7 separate regions of the Homo sapiens genome follow, and all the other regions are reported to be linked to region 1. The links are microRNA targets in miRTarBase. Many come from high-throughput screens and were not tested one by one. Region 1 holds a microRNA gene; each other region holds the end of a gene's coding sequence.
Evidence for each region. The annotated mature microRNA hsa-miR-6885-3p reads CUUUGCUUCCUGCUCCCCUAG and lies in region 1 at 1,267-1,287, opposite strand. An mRNA with a match to its seed (bases 2 to 7 or 8) in the 3' UTR can be bound and repressed. Matches are read on the target gene's strand: a 7mer-m8 pairs with bases 2 to 8, a 7mer-A1 pairs with bases 2 to 7 and ends in A, and an 8mer does both.

Region 2: miRTarBase lists LRRC55 as a target of hsa-miR-6885-3p. Seed matches in the 3' UTR shown: 7mer-A1 at 425-431.
Region 3: the mRNA of RUNX1 is a reported target of hsa-miR-6885-3p. Seed matches in the 3' UTR shown: 7mer-m8 at 925-931 and 7mer-A1 at 2,482-2,488.
Region 4: miRTarBase lists TTF2 as a target of hsa-miR-6885-3p. Seed matches in the 3' UTR shown: 7mer-m8 at 3,241-3,247 and 7mer-m8 at 3,747-3,753.
Region 5: miRTarBase lists DEFB118 as a target of hsa-miR-6885-3p. Seed matches in the 3' UTR shown: 7mer-A1 at 2,527-2,533.
Region 6: miRTarBase lists MTUS1 as a target of hsa-miR-6885-3p. Seed matches in the 3' UTR shown: 7mer-m8 at 2,503-2,509.
Region 7: the mRNA of ARSK is a reported target of hsa-miR-6885-3p. Seed matches in the 3' UTR shown: 7mer-m8 at 1,257-1,263, 7mer-A1 at 1,781-1,787 and 7mer-m8 at 2,165-2,171.

The regions. Positions count from the first base shown.
Region 1 is chr19:6,388,372-6,392,371 of GRCh38, forward strand. It overlaps MIR6885 (microRNA 6885), which reads right to left and starts at 1,332; the gene lies at 1,267-1,332. It overlaps GTF2F1 (general transcription factor IIF subunit 1), which reads right to left. Exons shown (of 13, transcript NM_002096.3): 3 at 3,531-3,603; 4 at 1,073-1,266.
Region 2 is chr11:57,187,138-57,191,216 of GRCh38, reverse strand. It overlaps LRRC55 (leucine rich repeat containing 55), which reads right to left. Exons shown (of 2, transcript NM_001005210.4): 2 at 1-3,972. The coding sequence ends at 3,737. It overlaps LOC105369309 (a long non-coding RNA gene), which reads left to right. Exons shown (of 7, transcript XR_007062670.1): 4 at 2,066-2,296. Among named protein-coding and RNA genes, the nearest start is that of LRRC55, 7.2 kb to the right of the region's middle.
Region 3 is chr21:34,788,688-34,792,766 of GRCh38, reverse strand. RUNX1 (RUNX family transcription factor 1) reads left to right here. Exons shown (of 9, transcript NM_001754.5): 9 at 157-4,079. The coding sequence ends at 632. Among named protein-coding and RNA genes, the nearest start is that of LINC01426, 45 kb to the right of the region's middle.
Region 4 is chr1:117,100,836-117,104,914 of GRCh38, forward strand. It overlaps TTF2 (transcription termination factor 2), which reads left to right. Exons shown (of 23, transcript NM_003594.4): 23 at 545-4,079. The coding sequence ends at 689. Among named protein-coding and RNA genes, the nearest start is that of MIR942, 8.2 kb to the left of the region's middle.
Region 5 is chr20:31,372,352-31,376,430 of GRCh38, reverse strand. It overlaps DEFB118 (defensin beta 118), which reads right to left. Exons shown (of 2, transcript NM_054112.3): 2 at 2,508-3,574. The coding sequence ends at 3,261. It overlaps LOC124900462 (small nucleolar RNA SNORA40), which reads right to left and starts at 112; the gene lies at 1-112.
Region 6 is chr8:17,642,405-17,646,483 of GRCh38, forward strand. It overlaps MTUS1 (microtubule associated scaffold protein 1), which reads right to left. Exons shown (of 15, transcript NM_001363059.2): 15 at 1,398-3,735. The coding sequence ends at 3,522. PDGFRL (platelet derived growth factor receptor like) reads left to right here. Exons shown (of 6, transcript NM_001372073.1): 6 at 209-740. The coding sequence ends at 397. Among named protein-coding and RNA genes, the nearest start is that of MIR548V, 37 kb to the right of the region's middle.
Region 7 is chr5:95,602,822-95,606,900 of GRCh38, forward strand. It overlaps ARSK (arylsulfatase family member K), which reads left to right. Exons shown (of 8, transcript NM_198150.3): 8 at 416-2,281. The coding sequence ends at 705. Among named protein-coding and RNA genes, the nearest start is that of GPR150, 15 kb to the right of the region's middle.

The sequences.
Region 1 (4,000 bases):
TGCCTACAGCTTTCCAAGGCTCCGCTGGACCCAGCACATCCTGGCACCCACTGCCCTGTGTGAGCTGCCTGTGTCTGTCACTATCACCCAACTGCTGTGCCTGGAGCACCCTTCATCAACCTAACCTGGACCCCTCCTGTTCTGCCCTCAGTCTGCCCCCTCTGAGAGGTCATCTCAAGTGTCATGAGCTCCCAGGGCTGGCCACCTAAGCTTCCTGCATTGTGGCACTCAGAGCTGCCTCAGAGCCAGGCACAAGCACCAACTCAGTGAACTGTCTTCAAAAACACAACCCCAGGGCCTGGGCAGTGGCTCATACCTATAATCCCAGCACTTTGGGAGACCAAGGTAGGAGGATCACTTGACCCCAGGAGTTCAAGACCAGCTTGAGCAACGCAGCAAGACCCCATCTCTACCAAAAATACAAAAATTAGCCAGGCATGGTGGGGCGTGCCTATAGTCCCAGCTACTCAGGATGCTGAGGTGGGAAGATCTCGAGCCCAGGAGTTGGAGCCTGCAGTGAGCTACGATCGCACCACTGCACTCCAGCCTGGGCAACGGAGTGAGACCCTGTCTCAAAATAAATAAGTAGGCTGGGCACGGTGGCTCACGCCTGTAATCCCAGCACTACGGGAGGCCGAGGCGGGAGGATCGCCAAGTTCGAGACCAGCCTGACCAATATGGTGAAACCCTGTCTCTACTAAAAATACAAAAATTAGCTGGGCGTGGTGGTGGCAGGCACCTGTAATCCCAGCTACTCAGGAGGCTCAGGCAGGAGAATAACTTGAACCTGGGAGGTGTGGGTTGCAGTGAGCCAAGATCGTGCTACTGCACTCCAGCCTGGGCGACAGAGCAAGACTCTGTCTCAAAAAAATACAAGTAAGTAAAATAAGATAACATAAATAAATAAATAAATAAATAAATAATAAAATCCTACAGGGATGGAAGTGCCAGCACTTCCACTGCAGCAGTGGGAATCTGAGGTTCAGAGAGGGTACCCCACAAAGTATGTAAGTTGAGGCCTGGGGATGTGGACTGGTCACTAAGCCGGCACCGCCACCGCCCCACCACTTACTTCCTGCCTGATTTGCCGTTGACCCGGAGCAGCCAGGGCTGGTCCTCGGGCCGGAACTCCTTGAGGACGATGCCGTACTTCTTCCTCCGAGCCTCCTCCCGAAGCTTGCGGTTGAACTCACTGCCCGCGCCCGATTCGGGCATCTCCTCCTCTTGGTAGATTTTCTTGTTGCTCAAGTCCCGCTCCAGCCGAGCCTAGGGGAGCAGGAAGCAAAGCCTCTCAGGGTCCCTGGCTTTGCTTGCGCAGTGCCCCCCTCCAGGAACGCCCTTCCTTGCCCTAGGCCAAGCTCTAGATTCTCAAAACCAACTTACCACTTGGCAACAAGGGAGGAGAACGGTAGCCTTTGACAAATCTGGGTAAAGGGAATTTGGGCGAGCCTTGCGCTCTATTTTTGCAACTTAAAAGCTTGAAATTATTTCCAAATTAAAATTAAAGAGAAAAAGACCACCTGGTGACCATCAAGCAGGCCATCGGAGGCAAAATTCCTTATCTGAGGAATGTAGAAGTAATTAATTAGACTTCCCTATTATCTACAGCAGGCATCTGGTTCCAGGATTCTTTTCAAAAAATGTCTAAGTACCTAGAATTTCCACACATCTCTCCAGAATGCATGCATATCGAAACTCATTGTGCTGTGGCTCACACCTGTAATCCCAGAACTTTGGGAGGCCAAGGCAGAAGGATCACTTGAGCTCAGGAGTTTAAGACCAGCCTGGCATCAGAATGGCTTGAACCTGGGAGGCGGAGGTTGCAGTGAGCCGAGATCATGCCACTGCACTCCAGCCTGGGTGATAGAGTGACACTCTGTCTTAAGAAAAAAAAGGCCAGGCGCGGTGGCTCACGCCTGTAATCCCAGCACTTCGGGAGGCCAAGGCAGGTGGATCACGAGGTCAGGAGATTGAGACCATCCTGGCTAACACGGTGAAACCCCGTCTCTACTAAAAATACAAAAAATAAGCCGGGCATGATGGCAGGCGCCTATAATCCCAGCTACTTGGGAGGCTGAGGCAGGAGAATGGCGTGAACCCGGGAGGCGGAGCTTGCAGTGAGCCGAGATCCTGGCGCTGCACTCCAGTCTGGGCGACAAAGCAAGACTCAGTCCCCAAAAAAAAAAAAAAAAAAAAAAAAGACCAGCCTGGGCAACATAGTGAGATCCTATATCTATTTCCTAAAAATAAAAAGGCTGGGCATGGTGGAAGGCTGAGGCGGGTGGATCACTTGAGGTCAGGAGTTCAAGACCAGCCTGACCAACATGGCGAAACTTCGTCTCTACTAAAAATACAAAAATTAGCTAGGCGTGGTGGTGGGCGCCTGTAATCCCAGCTACTTGGGAGGCTGAGGCAGGAGAATGGCTTGAACCTGGGAGGTGGAGGTTGCAGTGAGCCCAGGTCGCGCCACTGCACTCCAGCCTGGATGACAAGAGACTCCATCACAAAAAAATAAAATAAAATAAATAAAAAGAAACTCATTGTGCAACACTTGCTGACATTAAGGCACCAAAATCTCTACAAATTAACAATTTATCGTGACCTACATGGCTAATGTGATCCGAATTACCCTTAAGCTCTTGATTTAAGGTCCATATATACCATTTCCAAAACACTCTAGAATCAGCCACATCTCATAACCTCCACTGCCTCCAGTGCCCTGCCAGGACTCACCTAGACCAGTCCAGTTGCTTCTACCTTGGTCTCCGTTTATTTGCCCTCAAACCCACAGTTTGTCTCCCCATAGCAGCCAGATCACACACACTACAACTTCCCAATTGAAGATGCTTTAATGGCTCCCAAAGTCCTTTCTAGAGCCTCTGATGGCAGGGGCTCTGGGAAAGCCCCCAGCCCAGTCCCCTCCCTTGCCCAGATAAACCATGGCCAAAAATGTCCAACAGTGGGCACAGCTTCTAAATGTTCTCCTTTAAGGAGAGGCCTCTGGTGGGCCTACCAAACCTAACTTACAGGGACACCCAGGAGCTAGGCCTGGGCCTTTGCCATTTCCGTTTTTTTTTTTTTTTTTTTTTTTTTTTTTTTGAGGCAGGGTCTTGCTCTGTTATCCAGGCTGGAGTGCAGTCGTACAATCATAGCTCACTGCAGCCTTGAACCCCTGGGCTCAAGCGATCCTCCTACCTCAGCCTCCTATGTAGGACTACAGACCCACGCTATCAGCCCCAACTAACTTTTTAATTTTTTTGTAGAGTTGGGGTCTTGCTATTGTATTGCCCAGGCTGGTCTCAAACTCCTGGCCTTAAGCAAGCTTCCTGCCTCAGCCTCCCAAAGTGCTGGGATTACAGGTGTGAACTACTGCACCCAACCCTTTGTCATCTATCTTTTCTTCACTTGGAGAAAAGTGAGAAAATTAAGACTTAGTGACTATGACAGTTAAGCAACTATCACAACCACCAAGGTCAGGGTCAAGTTCTCTCACCACCCCAGCCCCTGACCCCCAGGACTCAGAGACTTACCTGATTCCACGTAGCAAAGTTGACTTTGTCGGCTGCATTAAAAGCCATGATGTTATATTTTTTGGTTGTATTCCTGGAGTGGATGAGAAGAGGTAGTGTCAATCCAATACAGCAATTCAATCATTAATTTAATCAGTCAATGCTATTGAACCATTAATTCAATCAACCACCCAACTGGATCGTTAATTCAATCAAATCATTACTTTAATTCAATCACTCAATTCAATTGAACCATTAATTCAATTCAATCATTCCATTCAATTGAATCATTAATTCAATTCAATTCACTCAACAAACCCACCCAGCTTCATTCAGCCTGTTTTGCCTGGCAACACTGGATACGGAAGACTCCAAGGATTCCCAGTCTGCCAGAGAAGCTAGACCCATCCTCTCCTGACCCCAGGCAGAAGAAGAGCAGATGGAGGGACGAAGATTTGGGGGAACCCAAGATGTGGAGATTATTGTGAACT
Region 2 (4,079 bases), not on the chromosome of region 1:
ATGAACCTCTGTAGCAACTCTGGAGACCTATTTCTGCAAAGTTCCCTGGGAATTCCTCTAGGAAGGGAGAAAAAGAGACGAGGGTTTGTCTGAGGGTGACCAGAGATAACTGGCCCAAAGTGATGTGATTCAGATATGAGGGCTCTTCTAAAAAGGAATTTTCTTGGCCCAAATCTTGACCAAACTAAACTTTGATATCCTCTGGCCTAGCATGGAGGAAGCTTCTGCAATGGGGACAAGTCTCTGAGGCGCAGGAGAGAGCAGAGGGAAGCAAGGAGAAGTCAGGTTCTCATTAGGATGCCTCTGCCACAGATTTTTCTCCTTCTTTATTTTTTGAGCATCCAGTCCTACCCTAAACCTGGTGGGATTCCATCTTAATCTATCAAGCAATGTAATATTAGATTGACGCAAAAGTAATTGGGATTTTTGCTATCATTTTTAATGGCAAAAACCGCAATTACTTTTGCACCAACCTATATATGCCTATTTAGGCATGCTTATTTATGCATATTTAGCCACTCAGCCTATGGCTGAGTGGACTATGTCAGAGAACTGAACCCAAGTTCTAGAGAGATCTGTCCCAAGTCAGCGGACAGCCAATATACAAGGAACCTCGCAGACAGACATACAGATGCAGAGATACCCCATCACATACATGTTAACCAGTTTGGACAATTTGAATGAAGCCTGTGGTCACCAGGGATATGGGAGCAATTCTAATCAGGATTGTTAGATTATCTCTAGAAGGTTGCTTCTGATAGCTTGGACAAGATGATGGCGGTGGGGGAGAAGCAGGGAATTCCTTGGCAGTAGGGAGGTTGAATACTTTCCTCATTGTGCTCTAGTAAACTGAGGAACTTCTAGCAGCAGGAGAAACATCTGTCCTTTAAAAGCCATGTATCCTGTTCAGAAAGGCTTGGCATTAATGGAGACCAAATTGTCCCACTAGAAAGGACATTGATGTCAAGGGGGCATTTGGTGTCTTTTCTGGTTCTAGTCCTATGCAAAAAAGCATATATCTTAAAATATATTAACTACATTTTGGCAAACAATAGTTCCTGGGAGGTTATTATAGTATTATGGTATGCCCCTATGGGAAACTTTTCTATTTTGTCAGGATTATAGTTTCTAAAAGTTCCTCTCCAAGTATTTAGGTTGCTGGCCTGGCTTGTAGAGAACAACTTGAGTTCACCATCCTTGGTCATCACAGAAGGAGAGAGCAGGGCACAGTTCTGCTTCGGATGTCACAGGGCCAGGGATTTGTCCCAGATGTTGTAAGAAAGATTCAGGGGACACAGGTTCAAGTACTTCAGGTCTAGCAAAGTTTCTGAAGACTCTTTTGGTTGACTAGCTCAGGGAAGCACGAGTGAGGGATGCCTTCCTGGAAGATGACTTATTAGCCTCCTTCATTCCTTTCAGGCTTTCCAGGAGGATGGGCTGATAGAATACCGCTGGAGCTTGGGGCAAGGGAGGTGTGGAAAGCCCCTGTTTTAATTCTCCTCCTGGCCAGACTTATCAGCATGTTGGACTGTGCCTTGATGTTCTTCTCCTAAACTGCAGAGGTTCTCACCTATAGCTTTCTTGCTCTCTTAGTATCTCTTGCAACACACGCAGCAGGGCTTGAGCAGGAGTGGTTAACACAGCTTCCTTTCTTGATTCCCAAAGATCTTACTTTTCACATGACTGCCACCATGGCCACCATTGCTGATGTTTTATCTACACATTGTAAAGCAGGAGTCTCCTATTCAGGTGTTACCTGTGTAGTCTCTGTTTCAGAGCCTGCAATTTGCCCTACCGTGAGCATAGTTCAATCTGTACAGCAGATGGGTTTGGCTGCCTTCTATTTAGCTTATCCACTAGCACATTCATGGATGCTGAATTCCAGGGCCCCACTACCCAGCCTTCTGAGGCATTCTCTTCCCCAAGCACTTGAGAAAGCACTGGAAAGAGAACTGTGTTAGGGTTGAGCCCCAACCTTGCCACATAGCAAGTCATATCCAACCTTGAGACTTTTTTCCCCATCTGTAAAACAGGATTACTGATGTTTGATTTACCTCCTGCACAGGGATGTGAAAAGTCAAGGAGAATGATGCAAAAATACTCATGAACTATCCGGTGCTGAACAAATAGAGGGAAGATAATGATGCTGCTGACGAAACTGATGAAGAAGACCACGATGATGATAATTGTGCTTTGCTCGTAAAGTTACTTGATTTTTGACTGACTGATTAGATGCAGTTTCCCTGAATGGAGCTGCCTACCGCCTTCCTTCTAGGGCTTATCCAGACAACCTTGGGTAAGTCACTCAACTCTCTACGATTAATTCATCTGTCAAATGGGGATAATAAAAACCACCAGGCAGTGTTGCTGTGAGAATTGAAAGAAGTGAGTCAATAGATATAAAAGTGCCCAGAGGAGTGCCTGGACCTTATGAGGAACTTTGTCAGCTCTAGTTGAATTTGAATTTATATAACTCTAGAGGGAATGGTGATGTTCCCCAACTTGGATGGGGCAGTAGAAAGAGCACAGACTTTATCTTGCTCATAGTGGCATGTGACTTTAACCTCTCTGAGCCTTAGTTGCCTCATCCGTAAAATGGGAACAACAGCGTTCACCTCAAAAGATTTGTGTGTGTGTGTGTCAAAGGGAATGGTTTGTGCAGAGAGCTTTTCAAAGTACCTGACACTGGCAAGGGCTTAGTATTTAATAGCTCTCTCACCCTCATGCTTAACGTGGGTAAGTTGCTTAGAAGAAAATGCAAAGCCTCATATGGTCATAACTGTGCTGCCTTTGTCCCCTTTTAGCTCTGGGTGCTGCCAGGCTGTGGGTCTGTGGCCCACAGTGCACTTTCCTGGTGAGACCCTGTGGCATGAGCACTGTGGCAAGAACAGTCACATGATTAGGATCCCAAGGTGCCAGGACTCTTGCTGCCCCAGTTGCTGGGCCTCCTGCCTCTCTCTTCTGAAGCAAAACTTGAGTGAGAGGCAGGAGCAAGGGCATTGAAAGTGTCCATCCTCAGCCTGCTGCCTGGGACCTCACCAACTGGTGACATTTGGTCATATGGGGGCAGTCACTGGGAGGTGGTCTCACCTGGTAGCTGCTGGTGGAAGGAGGCCAGGGGCTGTCATAGAGGTGTTCTTACTCCCTGTAGGCAGTGGCTGGCATTGCTGAGAGCTGACAGTTTTGGTGTCAGGAGGTGAGGGGTAGGTTTGAGTTCTGTGCCACACCCCCTCTATACAAGTAAGTGACCAGGAACTGTTCACTCTTCTCAACACAGCACACTATGCATATTCTGGCCTCTGCCATGTGCAGACACCCTTCTTTGCCTACCTGACAAAGTAGATATTTCCTGATGACCCAGTTCACAAATCACTCTAATCTTATAATTCTCATGGACATTGCTAGATACAGATGATGGCTCCTCCTCTGGGCCTCCATAATGACGTGCTCAGAGTCCTGACATATAGTCTTAAAGGGAATAGTTTTTGGATCTCTCTCCTTGACCAGAGGGAAGTGCCTTGAGGGCAGGGACTGAGTCAGTTCATCTGATGTTCCCAATTCCTAGCGTGCCGCCTGGCCCAAAGCAGATGCTCATACAAAATGAGTGTCCCCACCTTGCTTGAACCATGACTGAGGCAGCCAGGTCACCATGGAACCAGAGTGAGCAGTCAGGGAGGGCGTCTGGTGGCCAGCAGCTGTGGCGGTCAGCAGCATGGAGGGATGAGAGGCAGGCATGTCAGATCTCTTCCTCTTCACTGGCCTTGCTCCAGCGGTGGCAGCAGTTGGCAGTGATGCCCAGGAGGAAGTTGGTGGCCACAGAAGCAATGGAGACCACGAAGCCCACGAACGCAATGAATAGGTAATCATCCAGGGTCAGGGTCAGGTGGCAGGCCTTGAAGCTCTCCTCAGTGAGTGAGAAGAGCGGGGCGCCCTCGACTTCAGGAGGGCCCCGGCACTCAGCCAGCTGAGAATCTGTAACACAGAAGCCAGGGAGGGTGAGGTACCCAGGGAAGGAGAGGGGATTGGAAAGTCCACCCACAACCGCTTGCTGGAAAAAGTAAGAAAGACATTCATTGAAG
Region 3 (4,079 bases), not on the chromosome of region 1:
CCGGGTGGTCCCCGTCCTCCCCAGCAGTAGCATCCTGGGTGGCTTCCCATCCTCCTAGGCGGTATCATCCTGGGTAGCCCCCTGGGGCAGAGGGAAGAGCTGTGGCCTCCGCAACCTCCTACTCACTTCCGCTCCGTTCTCTTGCCCGCCCTGCAGCGGCACCCGACCTGACAGCGTTCAGCGACCCGCGCCAGTTCCCCGCGCTGCCCTCCATCTCCGACCCCCGCATGCACTATCCAGGCGCCTTCACCTACTCCCCGACGCCGGTCACCTCGGGCATCGGCATCGGCATGTCGGCCATGGGCTCGGCCACGCGCTACCACACCTACCTGCCGCCGCCCTACCCCGGCTCGTCGCAAGCGCAGGGAGGCCCGTTCCAAGCCAGCTCGCCCTCCTACCACCTGTACTACGGCGCCTCGGCCGGCTCCTACCAGTTCTCCATGGTGGGCGGCGAGCGCTCGCCGCCGCGCATCCTGCCGCCCTGCACCAACGCCTCCACCGGCTCCGCGCTGCTCAACCCCAGCCTCCCGAACCAGAGCGACGTGGTGGAGGCCGAGGGCAGCCACAGCAACTCCCCCACCAACATGGCGCCCTCCGCGCGCCTGGAGGAGGCCGTGTGGAGGCCCTACTGAGGCGCCAGGCCTGGCCCGGCTGGGCCCCGCGGGCCGCCGCCTTCGCCTCCGGGCGCGCGGGCCTCCTGTTCGCGACAAGCCCGCCGGGATCCCGGGCCCTGGGCCCGGCCACCGTCCTGGGGCCGAGGGCGCCCGACGGCCAGGATCTCGCTGTAGGTCAGGCCCGCGCAGCCTCCTGCGCCCAGAAGCCCACGCCGCCGCCGTCTGCTGGCGCCCCGGCCCTCGCGGAGGTGTCCGAGGCGACGCACCTCGAGGGTGTCCGCCGGCCCCAGCACCCAGGGGACGCGCTGGAAAGCAAACAGGAAGATTCCCGGAGGGAAACTGTGAATGCTTCTGATTTAGCAATGCTGTGAATAAAAAGAAAGATTTTATACCCTTGACTTAACTTTTTAACCAAGTTGTTTATTCCAAAGAGTGTGGAATTTTGGTTGGGGTGGGGGGAGAGGAGGGATGCAACTCGCCCTGTTTGGCATCTAATTCTTATTTTTAATTTTTCCGCACCTTATCAATTGCAAAATGCGTATTTGCATTTGGGTGGTTTTTATTTTTATATACGTTTATATAAATATATATAAATTGAGCTTGCTTCTTTCTTGCTTTGACCATGGAAAGAAATATGATTCCCTTTTCTTTAAGTTTTATTTAACTTTTCTTTTGGACTTTTGGGTAGTTGTTTTTTTTTGTTTTGTTTTGTTTTTTTGAGAAACAGCTACAGCTTTGGGTCATTTTTAACTACTGTATTCCCACAAGGAATCCCCAGATATTTATGTATCTTGATGTTCAGACATTTATGTGTTGATAATTTTTTAATTATTTAAATGTACTTATATTAAGAAAAATATCAAGTACTACATTTTCTTTTGTTCTTGATAGTAGCCAAAGTTAAATGTATCACATTGAAGAAGGCTAGAAAAAAAGAATGAGTAATGTGATCGCTTGGTTATCCAGAAGTATTGTTTACATTAAACTCCCTTTCATGTTAATCAAACAAGTGAGTAGCTCACGCAGCAACGTTTTTAATAGGATTTTTAGACACTGAGGGTCACTCCAAGGATCAGAAGTATGGAATTTTCTGCCAGGCTCAACAAGGGTCTCATATCTAACTTCCTCCTTAAAACAGAGAAGGTCAATCTAGTTCCAGAGGGTTGAGGCAGGTGCCAATAATTACATCTTTGGAGAGGATTTGATTTCTGCCCAGGGATTTGCTCACCCCAAGGTCATCTGATAATTTCACAGATGCTGTGTAACAGAACACAGCCAAAGTAAACTGTGTAGGGGAGCCACATTTACATAGGAACCAAATCAATGAATTTAGGGGTTACGATTATAGCAATTTAAGGGCCCACCAGAAGCAGGCCTCGAGGAGTCAATTTGCCTCTGTGTGCCTCAGTGGAGACAAGTGGGAAAACATGGTCCCACCTGTGCGAGACCCCCTGTCCTGTGCTGCTCACTCAACAACATCTTTGTGTTGCTTTCACCAGGCTGAGACCCTACCCTATGGGGTATATGGGCTTTTACCTGTGCACCAGTGTGACAGGAAAGATTCATGTCACTACTGTCCGTGGCTACAATTCAAAGGTATCCAATGTCGCTGTAAATTTTATGGCACTATTTTTATTGGAGGATTTGGTCAGAATGCAGTTGTTGTACAACTCATAAATACTAACTGCTGATTTTGACACATGTGTGCTCCAAATGATCTGGTGGTTATTTAACGTACCTCTTAAAATTCGTTGAAACGATTTCAGGTCAACTCTGAAGAGTATTTGAAAGCAGGACTTCAGAACAGTGTTTGATTTTTATTTTATAAATTTAAGCATTCAAATTAGGCAAATCTTTGGCTGCAGGCAGCAAAAACAGCTGGACTTATTTAAAACAACTTGTTTTTGAGTTTTCTTATATATATATTGATTATTTGTTTTACACACATGCAGTAGCACTTTGGTAAGAGTTAAAGAGTAAAGCAGCTTATGTTGTCAGGTCGTTCTTATCTAGAGAAGAGCTATAGCAGATCTCGGACAAACTCAGAATATATTCACTTTCATTTTTGACAGGATTCCCTCCACAACTCAGTTTCATATATTATTCCGTATTACATTTTTGCAGCTAAATTACCATAAAATGTCAGCAAATGTAAAAATTTAATTTCTGAAAAGCACCATTAGCCCATTTCCCCCAAATTAAACGTAAATGTTTTTTTTCAGCACATGTTACCATGTCTGACCTGCAAAAATGCTGGAGAAAAATGAAGGAAAAAATTATGTTTTTCAGTTTAATTCTGTTAACTGAAGATATTCCAACTCAAAACCAGCCTCATGCTCTGATTAGATAATCTTTTACATTGAACCTTTACTCTCAAAGCCATGTGTGGAGGGGGCTTGTCACTATTGTAGGCTCACTGGATTGGTCATTTAGAGTTTCACAGACTCTTACCAGCATATATAGTATTTAATTGTTTCAAAAAAAATCAAACTGTAGTTGTTTTGGCGATAGGTCTCACGCAACACATTTTTGTATGTGTGTGTGTGTGCGTGTGTGTGTGTGTGTGTGAAAAATTGCATTCATTGACTTCAGGTAGATTAAGGTATCTTTTTATTCATTGCCCTCAGGAAAGTTAAGGTATCAATGAGACCCTTAAGCCAATCATGTAATAACTGCATGTGTCTGGTCCAGGAGAAGTATTGAATAAGCCATTTCTACTGCTTACTCATGTCCCTATTTATGATTTCAACATGGATACATATTTCAGTTCTTTCTTTTTCTCACTATCTGAAAATACATTTCCCTCCCTCTCTTCCCCCCAATATCTCCCTTTTTTTCTCTCTTCCTCTATCTTCCAAACCCCACTTTCTCCCTCCTCCTTTTCCTGTGTTCTCTTAAGCAGATAGCACATACCCCCACCCAGTACCAAATTTCAGAACACAAGAAGGTCCAGTTCTTCCCCCTTCACATAAAGGAACATGGTTTGTCAGCCTTTCTCCTGTTTATGGGTTTCTTCCAGCAGAACAGAGACATTGCCAACCATATTGGATCTGCTTGCTGTCCAAACCAGCAAACTTTCCTGGGCAAATCACAATCAGTGAGTAAATAGACAGCCTTTCTGCTGCCTTGGGTTTCTGTGCAGATAAACAGAAATGCTCTGATTAGAAAGGAAATGAATGGTTCCACTCAAATGTCCTGCAATTTAGGATTGCAGATTTCTGCCTTGAAATACCTGTTTCTTTGGGACATTCCGTCCTGATGATTTTTATTTTTGTTGGTTTTTATTTTTGGGGGGAATGACATGTTTGGGTCTTTTATACATGAAAATTTGTTTGACAATAATCTCACAAAACATATTTTACATCTGAACAAAATGCCTTTTTGTTTACCGTAGCGTATACATTTGTTTTGGGATTTTTGTGTGTTTGTTGGGAATTTTGTTTTTAGCCAGGTCAGTATTGATGA
Region 4 (4,079 bases), not on the chromosome of region 1:
GTTTGTCTCGCTTTTGTTCTGCTTTGGAGCAAGACTATATTCATCTCTCCATCCCCACACCTAGCATAGTGTAGTGAGTGCTTAATCAATACTTTTGAATGAGTGAATGAATGACAACAGTGCCATTTACTTGGTTTGAAAACCCTGTTTTTATTGTGAATTCACTAAGAAATACTCTACTTAAACTAGCAGAAATTTGATAACCTTTGAGGCCTTATGGACTTACCAAGGTAGAACTTTTTGGGTAAAAGCTGGATCTCTATACTTTTTTGGATTGGGATATCTTTTGCTTATTTTGAGTTTGTTTCAATTACCTTAGCTTCAGAAAGTATTAAAATGCCAATGTGGGTCACATCCTTTTAAAGGGATATATATCTAGTCAAGGTTGTTTGGATTCCTCAGACAGGGTTCTTAACTGGACCTAAGAAGACTTAAAGGAAGAAATCTCATTAAAAATGAAAGCATAATAAAAGTTTGAATATATTATTAGATGTGCTGCTTAGGGTTTTTGATAGTTTGCTTATTTTTTGTTTTTGTTTTTTAGATTTGTTTGTGAGGGAACAGTAGAAGAAAAGATCTTACAGCTCCAAGAAAAAAAGAAAGATTTGGCCAAACAAGTTCTATCAGGGTCTGGAGAATCTGTCACCAAGCTCACCTTGGCTGACCTCAGAGTCCTTTTTGGCATCTAACCTCCTGTGGATAAGGGCTCAGAATAGCACCATTGCTGGTTTGTATTAGGATCTGGGAATAACAACCTAACCATGAGCCTTGAACTCTGTTCTTTGCATTTCAATTTCACCGTCAAGCCTTTCACCTTCCTCAAAATGAGGCATAATCTTATCCCCAGAATTGAGGAGGGGTTGTGTTAACCAATTAGTTAACCAATTATGTTAATAATTTATTTAATGAGTGGTATGGAAACCAATTGATTTTTTTAGATAAAAGAATATGTTTTAGAGTTGGATGATTTTGGAAAACAACTCTGGCAGAATTGTATATAAGCTTCAGTAAAGTTCAAAAAGCGGGCCAGGTGTGGTGGCTCATGCCTGTAATCCCGACACTTTGGGAGGCCAAGGCAGGAGGATGGCTTGAAGCCAGTAGTTCAAGACCAGCCTGGGCAACATAGTAAGACCCCATCTCTATGAAGAATAAAAAAATGAGCTAGGCGTGGTAGTGCACACCTGTAGTCCTAGCTACTTGGGAGGCTGAGGCAGGAGGATCCCTTGAGTCCAGGAGGTTGAGGCTGCAGTGAGCTGTGATTGTGCCACTGTTTTCCAGCCTGGGCAATACAGTGAGACCCTGTCTCAAAAAAAGGAAAAAAAAGCTCAAAAAGTTCTGTGTTGCCTTTCTCTTCTTAGCTGATGATGGGAGAACCAGTTACTACCTTCTCTAACACAGGCTCCATCCTATCTCTTCATCTCTTCTTGCCAGTGATGTTGCACCTGTAACCATCTTTTTATGGGTGGAGCAGAGAGTCAATCCCTGCAGCCACCCTGCAGCCAGCCATCTCTGCAGTTCTCTCAGTGCAGGCAGTTCTTCCTCTCAGGCTGAAGATCAAGGAGATGCTTTGTACATGAACAGATGCTGAGTATCTGTTATCATTGTATTGTTTAGTGTCAGTGTATCATTTAGTATTTGTATCACTGTACCATTTAGTGTTGTATATCACTCAGTCATTTAATATTGGTTATCACCATACAGTTTAATATTTGTATCATTTGGTTCATTGTATCGTTTAGTATTTCTATTATAACATTTCTATTTGTAGTATTTGTATAATATTTGTGTCATTTTTAATAGTATTTGTATTTTTACAAATTTGCAGTATTTGTAGCATTTAGTATCATTGTTTCATTTAGTATTTGGTACAATCTAATAAATACTAATCCAGTCCAATACTAATCCAATCCAATACTAATAATACTATTGGTACAATCCAATACTAATAATACTATTGGTACAATCCAATACTAATAATACTAACAGTAGTATTGATACAATCTAATAAATAATGTGTTTGACAGTGTAGCAGAAATAATGCTATGTGTTCACCAAACCCACTTCCTTTTCCTCCCGGGCACCCAGAGAGACTGTATTTCCCAGTTTTTGCTGCAGTTTGACGGGGTCCATATCAATGGACTGTGGAGAGAAGCGATTGATGTAAGTCACTTCTAGGTGGCCCTCTACCACTTTCCAAAAGATCATTCATGCTGTTTCTTCCCTCCTCAGCCTATGGGATGCAAAGGAACTGATGGAAGATTACAAGGCCCTAGGGAAGGTGAAGCCACTAGCTCAGCAGTTCTTAGCCTAGTTTTTGGCCATCAGCCCTTCTATTAGACTAGTGAAGCCTCAGTCCCAGGATGGCTCCCCATGTACACTTCCCTCCTCGCCCCAGCTCACCTACACTGGACTATGACATGATCAAGGAATCTTTTTTTTTAAGCTACTGAGATTTCTGTGTTGTTTACATAGCAGTTTGTACCCTAAACAAACACTTGAGATTTTATACTTCAGGAAACTATTCAGATTTCCTTCTCATTAGCAATTGTTCCAAAAACACTTACTCTGCTAATTTCTGCTAGAAAGAATCACAGTTCTTCTAACACAGAAACATTTCTGTCCCTTGAGTTGGGAAACAAGACCCTATGTTAACCCAGTCAGAGTGTGGACTGAGGCATTCGGAGCCTATTTAAGCAGAAGTTTTCTATAAGGACAAGATTTAAAGGCTTACAAAGGTAAAGACAATGGCCTGGTGGGAAGAATTCTAGTCTAGAACGTTTGAGATTTGACTCTAGTTCTAGGTTCATCTTAGCTGGGTGTGTAACGTTGAAAAAATTGGCCGGGTGCAGTGGCTCAGGCCTGTCATCCCAGCACTTTGGGAGGCCGAGGCAGACGGATCACGAGGTCAAGAGATCAAGACCATCTTGGCCAACATGGTGAAACCCCGTCTCTACTAAAAATACAAAAATTAGCTGAGCGTGGTGGCGTGCGCCTGTAGTCCCAGCTACTGGGGAGGATAAGGCAGGAGAATCGCTTGAACCTGGGAGGTGGAGGTTGCAGTGAGCTGAGATCGCGCCATTGCACTCCAGCCTGGTGACAGAGCGAGACTCCGTCTCAAAAAAAAAAAAAAAAAAAAAGAGAGAGAAAAAAATCCTTACTTTCTCTACACTCTGATTTCCTCATTTGTAAGGTGGGCAGTTTTCAGAACTTAGCAGCAATAAGGTTTCTGATAAAATCAAGAAGCAAAGGAAGTAACATTGCCTTTTTGAAGTTTTGCTATAAGATTGACATACCAAGGTAAAGATTGAGTCACCTGAGAAGCAGTGGCTCCCAGGCCAGCAAGAATGTACAAACCTGGCTCTGCCATTTGCTGATTGATATTAGGCAAGTTGCAGATTCCTTGGACATCTCAATCCTTTCATCTGTAAAATGTGTGGATTAGCATGTATCTCATGCTCCACTGGGAATTTCATAGCAAATATATATACTACAACATGGTTGACCAGATAGATCAGTAATGTCAACTAGAAGGTATTAGATGAACATTGTCAGTCTCCAATCAAGCATTGTTTAGGGGAGAGGAATTCTTTCAGGTTCAAGCATTCTGGCTTTTAGTTTGGAGAGGGATGCAGGGATTGTAACTTAAAATCTTCAGATATTGAGGCCATTGACAAGTAATCTACTGTAAGGTAGATGCCTCCTGGTATTTTAAAACAGCTTTTCTAATTTCTCATGTTATTGTACATAAGCAAAGCAACCTAGTTATGTCTTGGGTAGGTGTTCTTATAGCCGTGAGATGCTACTGACTTGAGGTGGATGCAGAAAAAAATGGAACCACTGCCTTAATGGGATGGAATATACTAAACATGCATTCTTAAATCCTAGTGCTGGGATGGATTACATGAATTACATTGTGGAGCTGCATATGTGTCTCCCCTCTTCCCTCCCTGGGGGTTAGGCTGGGTTTGTTTGGTTTTTTTTGTTTTGTCCTCATGAGGCTTAGCATCTAAGGGAGACAGGCATGAATTAACAGAAGTGGCATTCTGGTATCTGTCTCAGCCTCATATTCATTTTAGTGT
Region 5 (4,079 bases), not on the chromosome of region 1:
TGTATTAAAACTCATACCGAACAATGAGTTCTGGGTTGCAAAAGAGGATTTATTTTTTGCACCTGTCTATAAATCTTTGTCCACAAGTTAAACAAAAATATAAACAAGTGTAGCTGGACCTCCGTTTTGAAAGTTTCAGAATGTTCCTCAACTTGTATCTCAATCTGCCTCTAGGCAGCATTTCCACTATAGGTTATTCCCCCCTTGAAAACCTTAACTGCCTAGGGTTCTGTGATTTCACTCTTTGTTTTCTTCCTAACTTTCAGGCTCCCCCTTCTACATCATCTTTTGGGGTTCCTCTTCTGTTATTTGTCTCATTGGATTCTTCTGGGGTTACTCTTCTCTTCTGAGAATAAAAACTCTCCACATTCCTAGGAAAAGGCTGACAGTCCTATGGTCGTGATAATAAGTACATACCTTGAACTGTTTTAAACTTTTTTCATTGATCAACGACAACTTGCTTCAGTGAACACACTTCTGAAAGCTCATTGTCAGTGACAGCCTTATGCTTTGATTATGCCAATCAGCTTTGAATTCATTTCAGTGTACACACTTCTAAATTGTCATTAACCAATTCCCACCTCTGTAACCAACACAACTCCCTCAAAATGTGTTCCCCAAATGCTGTGTAAGTTCAACACTTCACTCTGGTGAAGGAGCTTATGATGGACCAGCATGGCTTTCCTGTTCTTAAGAAAGCAATCATTTCAGCATTTTGGTTTTAGACACTGAGTGATAGTTTCATCCTTTGACAATGATCTTTTTTTCTCCTTCCTCTGGTGCTGCCACCCATCCCAACAACAAGGTTTATGATCTGGACAAAAGTGTTGGTTCTGGACCTCTGTTTCAGGAAGAATACTGGTTGAGGAACCCAGGCTGATCCTCCCACTGAAAACAGTGAAAAAAACTTACTTAAAATATACAACAAAACTTTTAAAGCATCTTTAACCTTGCAAGAAAGTAAGGCCAAGAATATCAAAACCGTCTGGGTGCGGTGGCTCACACCTGTAATCCCAGCACTTTGGGAGGCCAAGGCGGGTGGATCACGAGGTCAGGAGTTCGAGACCAGCCTGACCAACATGATGAAACCCTGTTTCTACTAAAAATACCAAAATTAGCCAGGCATGGTGGCGTGCACTGGCAATCCCAGCTACTCAGGAGGCTGAGGCAGTAGAATCGCTTGAACCTGGGAGGCGGAGGTTGCTGTGAGCCGAGATTGCGCCACTGTCCTCTAGCCTGGGCGACAGATTGAGACTCTGTCTCAAAAAATAAAAATAAATAAAAAAAGAAAAAAAGAAAAAAAAGAATATTAAAACCAAGTGCAAGTGGGCACTCTTTCACAGGCAGTAACTGACGCTAGCTTTTGTCACAAAGGTACTTGCTGAATCAGGTGAACTTGAGTTTTGGTTTCCATGGCTTTGGCCAAGGTGGGGGTAAGCAGGGGAGAGAAGGCAGTGACTAGGGTCTGAAAAAATATGCGAGTCTAATAGGAGACCCCTATATAAATCTCAGTCCTTAAAGTGTTATGTATGCTGTGTAAAAATAAAGCAGATACATAAAACATTCCTTTTCCTTCACCAGAGGTTTTCAAGGAAAATTGCCTGATTATGAACCTAAGTATTCAGTAAATAGAAAAAAAATCTTCACTGAGAATTTATAACCTCAAGGTAGATCTCATAAAGTCTCTCAGCCTGAATTCACAGTACATGGGTCGTATGAAAAAAAAAATCAAGTTTAAAGTTGTCCCAGACTAGTAGTGCCAAAAAGACAGAAGAAAACAAAGGAGTAGACCTTTAACTCAGGACTCAACTAGTTTACTCAACTAAACTTCTGAGGAAAATAAACAGAGCAGAGCCCCAAATCACAAAACACACAAGGAAATAAGGCACCATGAATTAAGGTCAGCAGAAATCAGTCTAGAGATTCAGACTTTCAAAGACTTCAAATTTCAGAATTATCAGGAATAACAAGTTTAAAAAAATAATGAGACAGAAATTTCCCGTCATGAATTAGGTATTATCTAACCCCTTGAATAATACAATTAGACCTGTGAAGAAGAATTCCAATGTTAGTTGAAAGTAATATGTTCAAAATTGGAACTTAGCAGGTCTGGCAAGCATAAACTGCAGAAGCAGGTGGTTCAGATGCCTATGGCACCCATTCCTGCTTTATTGCCTCTTCTTCATCACACACTAATGGTATCATGAGGGGTTCCTATGGTTACTTAATAAAGGAGGAAAAAGCAAGGCCAGGTTTGTGGAATGGTCTGCATGACATGCTAGCACCAGACAGAAGTGCTGCATTACAGCATGATATGGCAGTGGCCCAAAAGACAGTGGTTAAGGGAAAACCTTCCAGTAGAAGGAAGGCTTGGTATGGATCTATAGTAATTCATGAACGCTGGTAATAGATTGGCTGGTTGTTTAGGTACTTGGAAAGAGCAAGATTGGAAAATTTGTAAAATGAAGTCTGTTGTAGAGTTATGTGGATGGGATAGGATGTGAAGATTTTTTTTTTTTTTTTTTTTTTTGCTATCAGAGGGAGACAAATAAAGCTCTCAGTAATCAGGTAGATAAATGATCCATCCTTTCACCCACAATTGGGGGTCCATGATTACCCTTGGATGTCCATGTGTGATCAAGGCTTGGTCAAAAAGATGGGTCTACAGAGCCATAAAAGCTTTTCGACAGCATTTCAACCCCAAAGCCACTGGGGCAAAAAGGAGTCTTCATAGCTCACACCTGGGGCGGCCAATTTCCTACAGTGAGAGATAAAACCTGGCTCCAAGGCCATAGTTAGTAGGAGAATGAATGCTTTCACCTGAAGTGTCTCCTGTTCTAGAAAAAAAGCTTTTAGTGTCATAGTAGCTACTCTCACAGATGCAAAGATTTAGAATTTTGATCATGACCACTTATGCTGCCATGAAGACAGCTGTTGAGAAGACAGAACGATACATGAAGAAATTGTTGTTGGAATAGCTAACTAAGCTATTGAAGTTGTGCATAGGTCACTAGCAAACAAGAAATACTAAAAATAGGTTATAACTTGTTGTGGAAATAATGTGACATTTCAAGAAGAGCACTGAAGAGTTTATCATTGGAAATAGTGAAAATTTTAGACTTCTTTACACAGCTGTTTCTATTAATAGAATTACATATTGGTGGGGGGTGGGAGGGTCACTGTGGTGTTTTCAGTGCTTTATCTGTATGTGACTTAGTTTATCACTCTGAGGACAGGGGTGAGTGATAGCCGAGAGGAAGTCATGAGCTATGGTGAACATTTGGAAGAGAGGTCTCAGTTCCCCTTCCCGCCTCAGACTCTTCAACCATATCTTTCTTGCTGCTTACTTCAAAGTAGTCTGTCGTGAACCTTACTGTTAAAATATCATCAATAATTCCTGGTGTTGAGTCACTCAAGGGTGTGGGAGATGTCGCAGGAACTCGCCTGTGGTCTTCATTGGATGGAATGCAGCAAGCTCGAAGATTTTTGCATGTATCTTTCACTGCTTCTCCATCTTTGCATTGTTTCCTGCAGTGCCCTGATCTGTTCCAGCATTTTTTTTCACCACTATAGGCTGAATAATAAAAGGAAAGACCATTGATTTTGGGTTACTGATGCTCTCAATTTCACTAGCATGACTGTATATCTCGCATCCTATATCCACACTGTGGATCATAATTAGATGACAGCTGCAAGACTCCCACCTCAGGTCTGGCAAATACTCAACCTCCCATTTGTCAATTTTTAACTATTCTGAAAGTGGGATGAATCTTACGATCAATGAAAAGAAACTTTAGTCATGAGGAATTGGGGCCACTTATAATGAAGCTACCTGTACCCTGTGAGTAAAGGTACCTGAGTAAAGAAAGTACATCTTTTTTTTTAGATGGAGTCTCACTCTGTCACCAGGCTGGAGTGCAGTGGCATGATCTCAGCTCACTGCAACCTCCGCCTCCCTGGTTCAAGCGATTCTCTTGCCTCAGCCTCCTGAGTAGCTGGGACTACAGGCACGCGCCACCACACCCAGCTAATTTTTGTATTTTTAGTCAGATGGGGTTTCATCATGTTGGTCAGGATGG
Region 6 (4,079 bases), not on the chromosome of region 1:
TGAAATTCAAGGGCTGTTTGGAAAAAATGCAACCTAAAATGATTCCAGTGTAGAAGCTTCCACAGCTTATGAGCTACGCATACTAAACAGTCTTTTATAAGCATGTGCTTTGCTCTCTGAAAGGAACGCTCAACAGTGTTGGGTGAGTGGGAGCTCTTTATAGCAGCTTGTCCCTCTTGCTTCAGTCTTTGTGGGTGTCGTTAAACAGGATGAAAGGCCTGTGACGATCCAAGACACTTGGAGGTTGATCCACAGAGGACTGGGACACACCACGAGAATCTCCCAGAGTGTCATTACAGTGGAAGACTTTGAGACGATTGATGCAGGATATTACATTTGCACTGCTCAGAATCTTCAAGGACAGACCACAGTAGCTACCACTGTTGAGTTTTCCTGACTTGGAAAAGGAAATGTAATGAACTTATGGAAAGCCCATTTGTGTACACAGTCAGCTTTGGGGTTCCTTTTATTAGTGCTTTGCCAGAGGCTGATGTCAAGCACCACACCCCAACCCCAGCGTCTCGTGAGTCCGACCCAGACATCCAAACTAAAAGGAAGTCATCCAGTCTATTCACAGAAGTGTTAACTTTTCTAACAGAAAGCATGATTTTGATTGCTTACCTACATACGTGTTCCTAGTTTTTATACATGTGTAAACAATTTTATATAATCAATCATTTCTATTAAATGAGCACGTTTTTGTAAAAAATAAAAAGTGGGATAAGTGTTTTTTAAGTTAAGTTGACTTAAAATACATCCAGAAAGACTTGGTGGTGGTGATACGTGGGTCAATACCAAGTATTCTCTTTTATATCACCGCAATATATTAGAATTTTAAAATGTACTAGATACAGTTCAACTACTTACCCACAAGCAACAACTCCAGACTCAAATGCTTAGAAATGTCATTTTGTCTTAGTAGCAACTTTAACAAATGTGAGTTAATTTATGAAGGTACTGAAAAAATTCAAGGACACTTCATTTTTTTAAACTGCTGCACTCAAAGGTGTAATTGTAGATTAGTCTATTCAATAACTAGAACAAGTTTTTAGAAGTTTAGCTTTCAATATGAAATAGATGCATAGATTAAGAACATTCAACTTTGTTTAGACATTTTTTACGATATTCAAAAATATTTACCAAGTTTGTCCAATTTTCTTATACAGCAGAAATTGTTACAGCCAGCCAAAATTTATTTGTCAAACATAGATAGCTTTGAATTTAGAGAAGAAGAGCTTACCTCTCACTCTAGCTCTGTGAGCCCATGACCAACTCTGCGGTTGCAGTGGAAATTCCTGGGAAATATAAACTAAGAGGAGATACGACCTTTACTGTGCTGTCACAGGGCTGTAAAAATGAAGAATTTGAAGAATGAAGTAGGTCAGAGGATGCAATTCTTGAGTATTCCAGCATTATTTATTTGATCAGAGTAAAATACACTTCCCATCACTACAAACTGAGCACAACTACAGTTGTCTACACATTCATATTTTTGACGTGCCAACATTTTGCATTCTACATGAAACATTTGGTTTAAACAAAATCTTAAGAATTCTCTATTTTGTTTCCCATCTTCCCTCCTGTTCTCTCCCATCCTCCAAAGATGTTTTATATTAACTGCTATGAGATTTATTTGCCGGTCACGTAATACGGAGGACAGCAGGGAACAACACAAGATTTACCATGCCTAGGGGATGAATGGCAAACCCAACTTTGGCTAATGTCATTGAGAACAACTTGGAAGCGTGAGCAGAGATATCTCATGAAGTGGCAGTGAACCTACATTTCCATTTATCAGAAGCAAACATGGAAGGTTACATACATGATGAAGTATTGGAAGTTAAAGACTTAAGACACAAAATCACTAATTTAAAAGAACATGCAACATGAGTATCAACTTGCTATGTAGTGTACATGTAAATGACCCAAATATTCACCTCTAGCATCCTGAATCTCTTCTTACTACAGCTGTTATTTGTACAGCCACTGAATGTAGATTAGTAAATACTGACATCACAATGTTGACACATGCAGGGAGGGGGAGATAAAGCAACAGTTCTTCCTTCCACCTTTTCCAAAGTCTCAGGATTAGGGGAGGTAATAAGTTTTGGAAAGAAACTGAAATGCAACCTGGAGGAGAGTTGGACAAGCCACATTTTCCACTCATGGGAAAGAAGCGGACCATTCTGCTACTTTCCCAAAGACAAAGGGACTCCTTAAAGGGTAACTGAAAAATGAGCGCTATCCTCCCAGACTGTTTTCTTCTATCAAGTACTGCATCATCGGTAAGCACTGAATCCTACCTTTCTTAATTATACTAGCCAATGACTTCCTTGTTCTCGTTCTTTATTCTAAGATTTCCCAAAATTTGTAATATCAAATCCAGGCTTTAGTTTATTTGGAAAGTGGTTTCAGCACCTGGAAGATGAGCTGGCTCTGGGGCTCTGGAAAATCATATTCCTTTATCCTTGTCCCAGAGAAAAGTAGGTAGGAGGTAGAAGGTTTGCTTTTGTGGCTCTGGATGGTGGAGAAAGGTAAAAGGAAAATGAGAATAATGGGAGGGAAGAAGACAGGTTAAATCTGCAAGGGTAGATCAAAGGTAAAAATAAGGTGGAAAAACCCATTGGTACTTCCCTTTTTCTTTCTTTACACAGTTAGTTAGTTAGTTTGTTTTTTTATAGAAAAATTAGGGTTCTACATTTACACATAGCCTGAGAAAATGAATTACAGGATAGTGTTAGGCTCACATGGGTAAGTAAAAAATCTACAGAAAAATCTAGTTTCAACTGACATGGCTGAACACTGAAAAACTGCCAAGAAGTTACCCCCAAAAGATACAGAGAATGTATAGACAGGGACAAGTCAAAGCTCTTCCTGTTATACCCTCTCCCTACCCTGTTACAGGGCTGAGCAGAGTTGGTGGTAGATGATCATAATTCAAGCAACTATTGCTTTTTCTTCTATGGCTTTGGCTGAAATGTATATGCTGATTGATTGATTATTATTTGATTAGTACATATCCAGATATATTCAGATTTTGACATTTAATACACAGCAGAGGAGGCTGCATCAGACACATGACACTCTGTGACATCCATTTCATTCACACCCCCCACCCCCACAGTCAGACTGAAAACTCACAAGAAGGTGTCTGTGGTGAAGAACATTACAAAGGTTATAAATCTTAATAGGGCCCTGAGAGTTTTTCCCCCTATGCTTAGGTGAAAAAGGCAATGAACAAGATGCTCTCGTTCTTTAAGTGCTTTGTGCAACAACGTCCGTGTCGATGCCGAAATCTTTTTTTAAATCTTTTTTTGGAGGAATCTTTTGGACGGAGGCAAAAGTCTTCCTCCAGAGTTCCAGTCTCAGAAGCTGCGATTCCGCCGGTGGTGACGCTCCAGTTACCCTACGGTGATCACACGTGTGCTGATATACCTCTTGTGCCCACGTTCCTCCTTGGGGTCAGTCCTGCAGACCTGCATCAAAATGCTTTCAGAGAGTCTGTGGACTTTGGGGAGGTGTCATCTGGGTGAAATGCTGGGGCTAGGGAAGGAGCCCGAATTCCTTGGTGACTGCAAAGGGATGGCGGAGGATGTGGGGGATCTCTTGGGGCTACACAGGTCCCCATTGTGCAGTTTCCACAGAAGCTCCTCGTTTTCCATAGAGAGTCGCTTGTTGACTTTCGACTCCTTCTCCAGCGACTCTTGCAGAACAGCCTGCTCCGTGGAAAGCTGCCTTGAAGAAAAAGGCCAGAAACCATGAGATCTATGTAAAAAAAAAAAAAACTTGAAAAATTTTTCTTAGCGTTTGAAACTTTAAAGTCCAAAATTATTCCTTTGGGATAAAACAGAATCCTGCACAAGGTCACAGGTATTTGGCTGGCTAAGAAAACCCAAACACAGGCCGGGCGTGGTGGCTCAAGCTCATAATCCTGGCACCTTGGGAGGCCAAGGTGGGTGGATAACTTGAGGCCAGGAGTTCAAGATCAACTTGGGCAACATGGCGAAACTCTGTCTCTATTAAAAATACAAAAATTAGTCACGCATGGTGACATGTGCCTGTAGTCCCAGCTACTCAGG
Region 7 (4,079 bases), not on the chromosome of region 1:
ACATGACTTGTCTATATAAAGAATTTGTAGAAAGTTTGAGGCTGTTAAAATGGTACAGTATAAGCATTACTGTATTCATTTCTGCCTGTCAAAGTAGGCAGGACATCAAAAACAGGAAGAACTTGTTCTAAACCAGCTTACTAATGATAAAAGTTTGACTTTTTCTGGCATTTAAGAAAAGAAAAAAAAAGTGGGATAGCTGGACAATGGTAGGAAGGAGGGAATTTGGGCATGCAACATAGGGTGTTTAACTCCTGGTATGTTATTTTACCATTTATACTGTCCTTCATTTTACTACACTAACAGGAACTGAAAATCTAAAAAAAAAATCTAATACATTACCTGTCATAATGACATTCTAAAAAAATTTTTAGCAGGTCACTATTTTGACAGATACTTATTTTTTTTCTTTCAGATCTTTCCTCGGATCCAGATGAATTAACAAATGTTGCTGTAAAATTTCCAGAAATTACTTATTCTTTGGATCAGAAGCTTCATTCCATTATAAACTACCCTAAAGTTTCTGCTTCTGTCCACCAGTATAATAAAGAGCAGTTTATCAAGTGGAAACAAAGTATAGGACAGAATTATTCAAACGTTATAGCAAATCTTAGGTGGCACCAAGACTGGCAGAAGGAACCAAGGAAGTATGAAAATGCAATTGATCAGTGGCTTAAAACCCATATGAATCCAAGAGCAGTTTGAACAAAAAGTTTAAAAATAGTGTTCTAGAGATACATATAAATATATTACAAGATCATAATTATGTATTTTAAATGAAACAGTTTTAATAATTACCAAGTTTTGGCCGGGCACAGTGGCTCACACCTGTAATCCCAGGACTTTGGGAGGCTGAGGAAAGCAGATCACAAGGTCAAGAGATTGAGACCATCCTGGCCAACATGGTGAAACCCTGTCTCTACTAAAAATACAAAAATTAGCTGGGCGCGGTGGTGCACACCTATAGTCTCAGCTACTCAGAGGCTGAGGCAGGAGGATCGCTTGAACCCGGGAGGCAGCAGTTGCAGTGAGCTGAGATTGCGCCACTGTACTCCAGCCTGGCAACAGAGTGAGACTGTGTCGCAAAAAAATAAAAATAAAATAATAATAATTACCAATTTTTCATTATTTTGTAAGAATGTAGTGTATTTTAAGATAAAATGCCAATGATTATAAAATCACATATTTTCAAAAATGGTTATTATTTAGGCCTTTGTACAATTTCTAACAATTTAGTGGAAGTATCAAAAGAATTGAAGCAAATACTGTAACAGTTATGTTCCTTTAAATAATAGAGAATATAAAATATTGTAATAATATGTATCATAAAATAGTTGTATGTGAGCATTTGATGGTGCTCGATGAGTTACTTGTATTTGATGGGATTGTTTGGATGTATTTAATGGGAGTATTTGGAGTATTTAACGGGATGTAAACCCTGGATGTACCTGATTTTGTTACTGTTTTATTTTAATAGGTAATATATATACAGGGTAAAAGCTTCAAATGGTACAAAAGGGTTAACAGTGATCGTGAAGTCTCTGTCCTTTCCCTCTTCCCTGCCATCCAGTTCCCCCTCCAAGAAGCAAGTACCGAAACCACCTGCTTACGCATTTTTAGAGATTGGCCACAAATTTATAAACAAATGTATATATTCCTTTCCCCCTACACAAACGGTAACATACTGCACACATTGTTCTGCATGTTGCTTCTTTTTCCTTTTTTTTTTCACTTAACAGTAGATATCTAGAGGTGAAATTACTGAGTCAAGACTATATTTAGCAAAATTACACTAGATACTACAAATTACCTCTAAAGAAGGTATACTAACTGATAATCTCACCATCAATGCATGTCTTCTTATCCTTTGCCAACCTAACAGATAAAAATGTTCTATTTTTATTTTTCTTTTTATGAGTAACGTAGAGCATATTTTCATGTATTTAACAGCCACTGGAATCTGCTTTACCATGGCCTTTCCTATTTCTATTCTTTGCCTATTTTTCTGTTGGTTGTTGGTCTTTGTTTTGTATTACAGGTGTGCTTTAGATATTAGCTTTTTGTAAGAGATCCTGCAAATATCTTCTTTCCAGTTTGTCATTGTCATTTGTCTTTTGACTTTGTTCTGGTATTTTTTGATATGTAGAAATTTTTATTTTCATGTAAGCAAATTTATGAATCTTTGTACACCATAAGTATATACAATTATGATTTGTCAATTAAAAATATTAGTACAAAATTTACAGATCTTTGCTTTTGTGGCTTTTGGGATTTTGTATCATATTTAGAATGGCCTTCTCCACTTGTCATTTTTTTTTTTGAGACGGAGTCTCGCTCTGTCACCCAGACTGGAGTGCAATGGTGCAATCCCGGTTTCAAGTGATTCTCCTGCCTCAGCCTCCCAAGTAGCTGGATTACAGGCACCCGCCACCACACCCAGCTAATTTTTTGTATTTTTAGTAGAGATGGGGTTTCACCGTGTTAGCCAGGATGGTCTTGATCTCCTGACCTGGTGATCTGCCCACCTAGGCCTCCCAAAGTGCTGGGATTACAGGCGTGAGCCACTGCGCCTGGCCTCCACTTGTCTTCTTTTATAATTTTATTTTTCACCTTTGGATCTTTGACCCAGCTGGAATGTATTAAACATATTAGAAATCTAACTTTGGTTGTTTTTTTAAATATGCCTACCCATTGATCTTTTATTGAGTAAACTGTCTCTTCTCCCATTCGTAAAAATGTCACTTCATCATATAATACCTTTGGTTGAGTACATTATCTTTTCCTCCATTGATTTGCGATGCCATTTTTATCTATACCAAAGTCCCATTTATACTTATGCCATTTCTGAACATTTTATTTTCCACTGGACCATTCTATTTTCTTTGTTTCTGTTTTGTTTTTTGTTTTTTTGAGACAGGGTCTTCCCTTGTCACTCAGGCTGGAGTGCAGTGGCACAATCACTGCTCACTGCAGCCTCAATCTCATAGGCTCAGGTGATCCTCGCACCTCAGCCTCCCTAGTAGCTGGGACCGCAGGCACGCGCCACAAAACTCAGCTAATTTTTTAAATTTTTATAGAGACAGGGTTTCACTGCATTGCCCAGACTGGTCTTAAAGTCCTGCACTCAAGCAACCTGACTGTCTCAGCCTCGCAAAGTGCTGGGATTACAGGCATGAGCCACCACACCCAGCCAGACCAGTCTATTTTATTAGTCTGGTAGACAGTATCTGGTAGGACTAGTCCCTTTGCAATAGTTTTCTTTTTTCAGAATTGTCCTTCCTAGCAACTCTTGATTTTTCCATACAAATTTAGAATAAGTTTGTGTAGTAACAAAAATGAAAAGTCCTGTTGGCTTTTAAATGAAATCATTAAATGTATAACCTACTTTAGAGAGAATTTAATTCTTTATGATAGTTATTCTAAATAATTAGCATGTTTTTCCCTTTATTCAAGTCTTCTTTTATATCCCTCAGTAGTAGTCTAAGTTTTCTTCATATAGATCAATTTGTCCGGAAAAATTTTTGAAAAGCAGAGACTTTAAAAAATACCCCCCTAGGCTCTACACTACACCACTTGATTAGAGCTTCTGAGACAGCCTGGGCCTGCTGTGCTATTATTGTTGTCTTGCTGGTCAATCCCTCCAGCCATGATTCTAATATGTAGCCAGAGGTGGGTTTATTTCCAGTTGTTTTATCAGTTATTGTGATTTTAAGTGAATCTTCCTTCCATTATATCCTCTAAGAGAAGATCTTCTTGTTTATATGTGCACTCCATTTCCATATATTTATTTTATGCTGAATCACTTCATAGTGAGTAATAGTTTTTCAAGTGATATATTATTTTCCAAGTAAAAATCTTACCTGCAAATAATTTTACCCAACTTAATACTTCTTCAAACTGTCTTTGAAGTTTTCTTCATGAGTAAGTTCATCTCCTTTATTTATTTGTTTATCGTTCTTCAGTGAATTTATATGAGCTTACCTTTGCAATTATGAATTTCTGAGAAATGATTTTACTTTTGAATATATCTGATTTTTATTACATATGTATATACACATGCATACACAAACACACATATT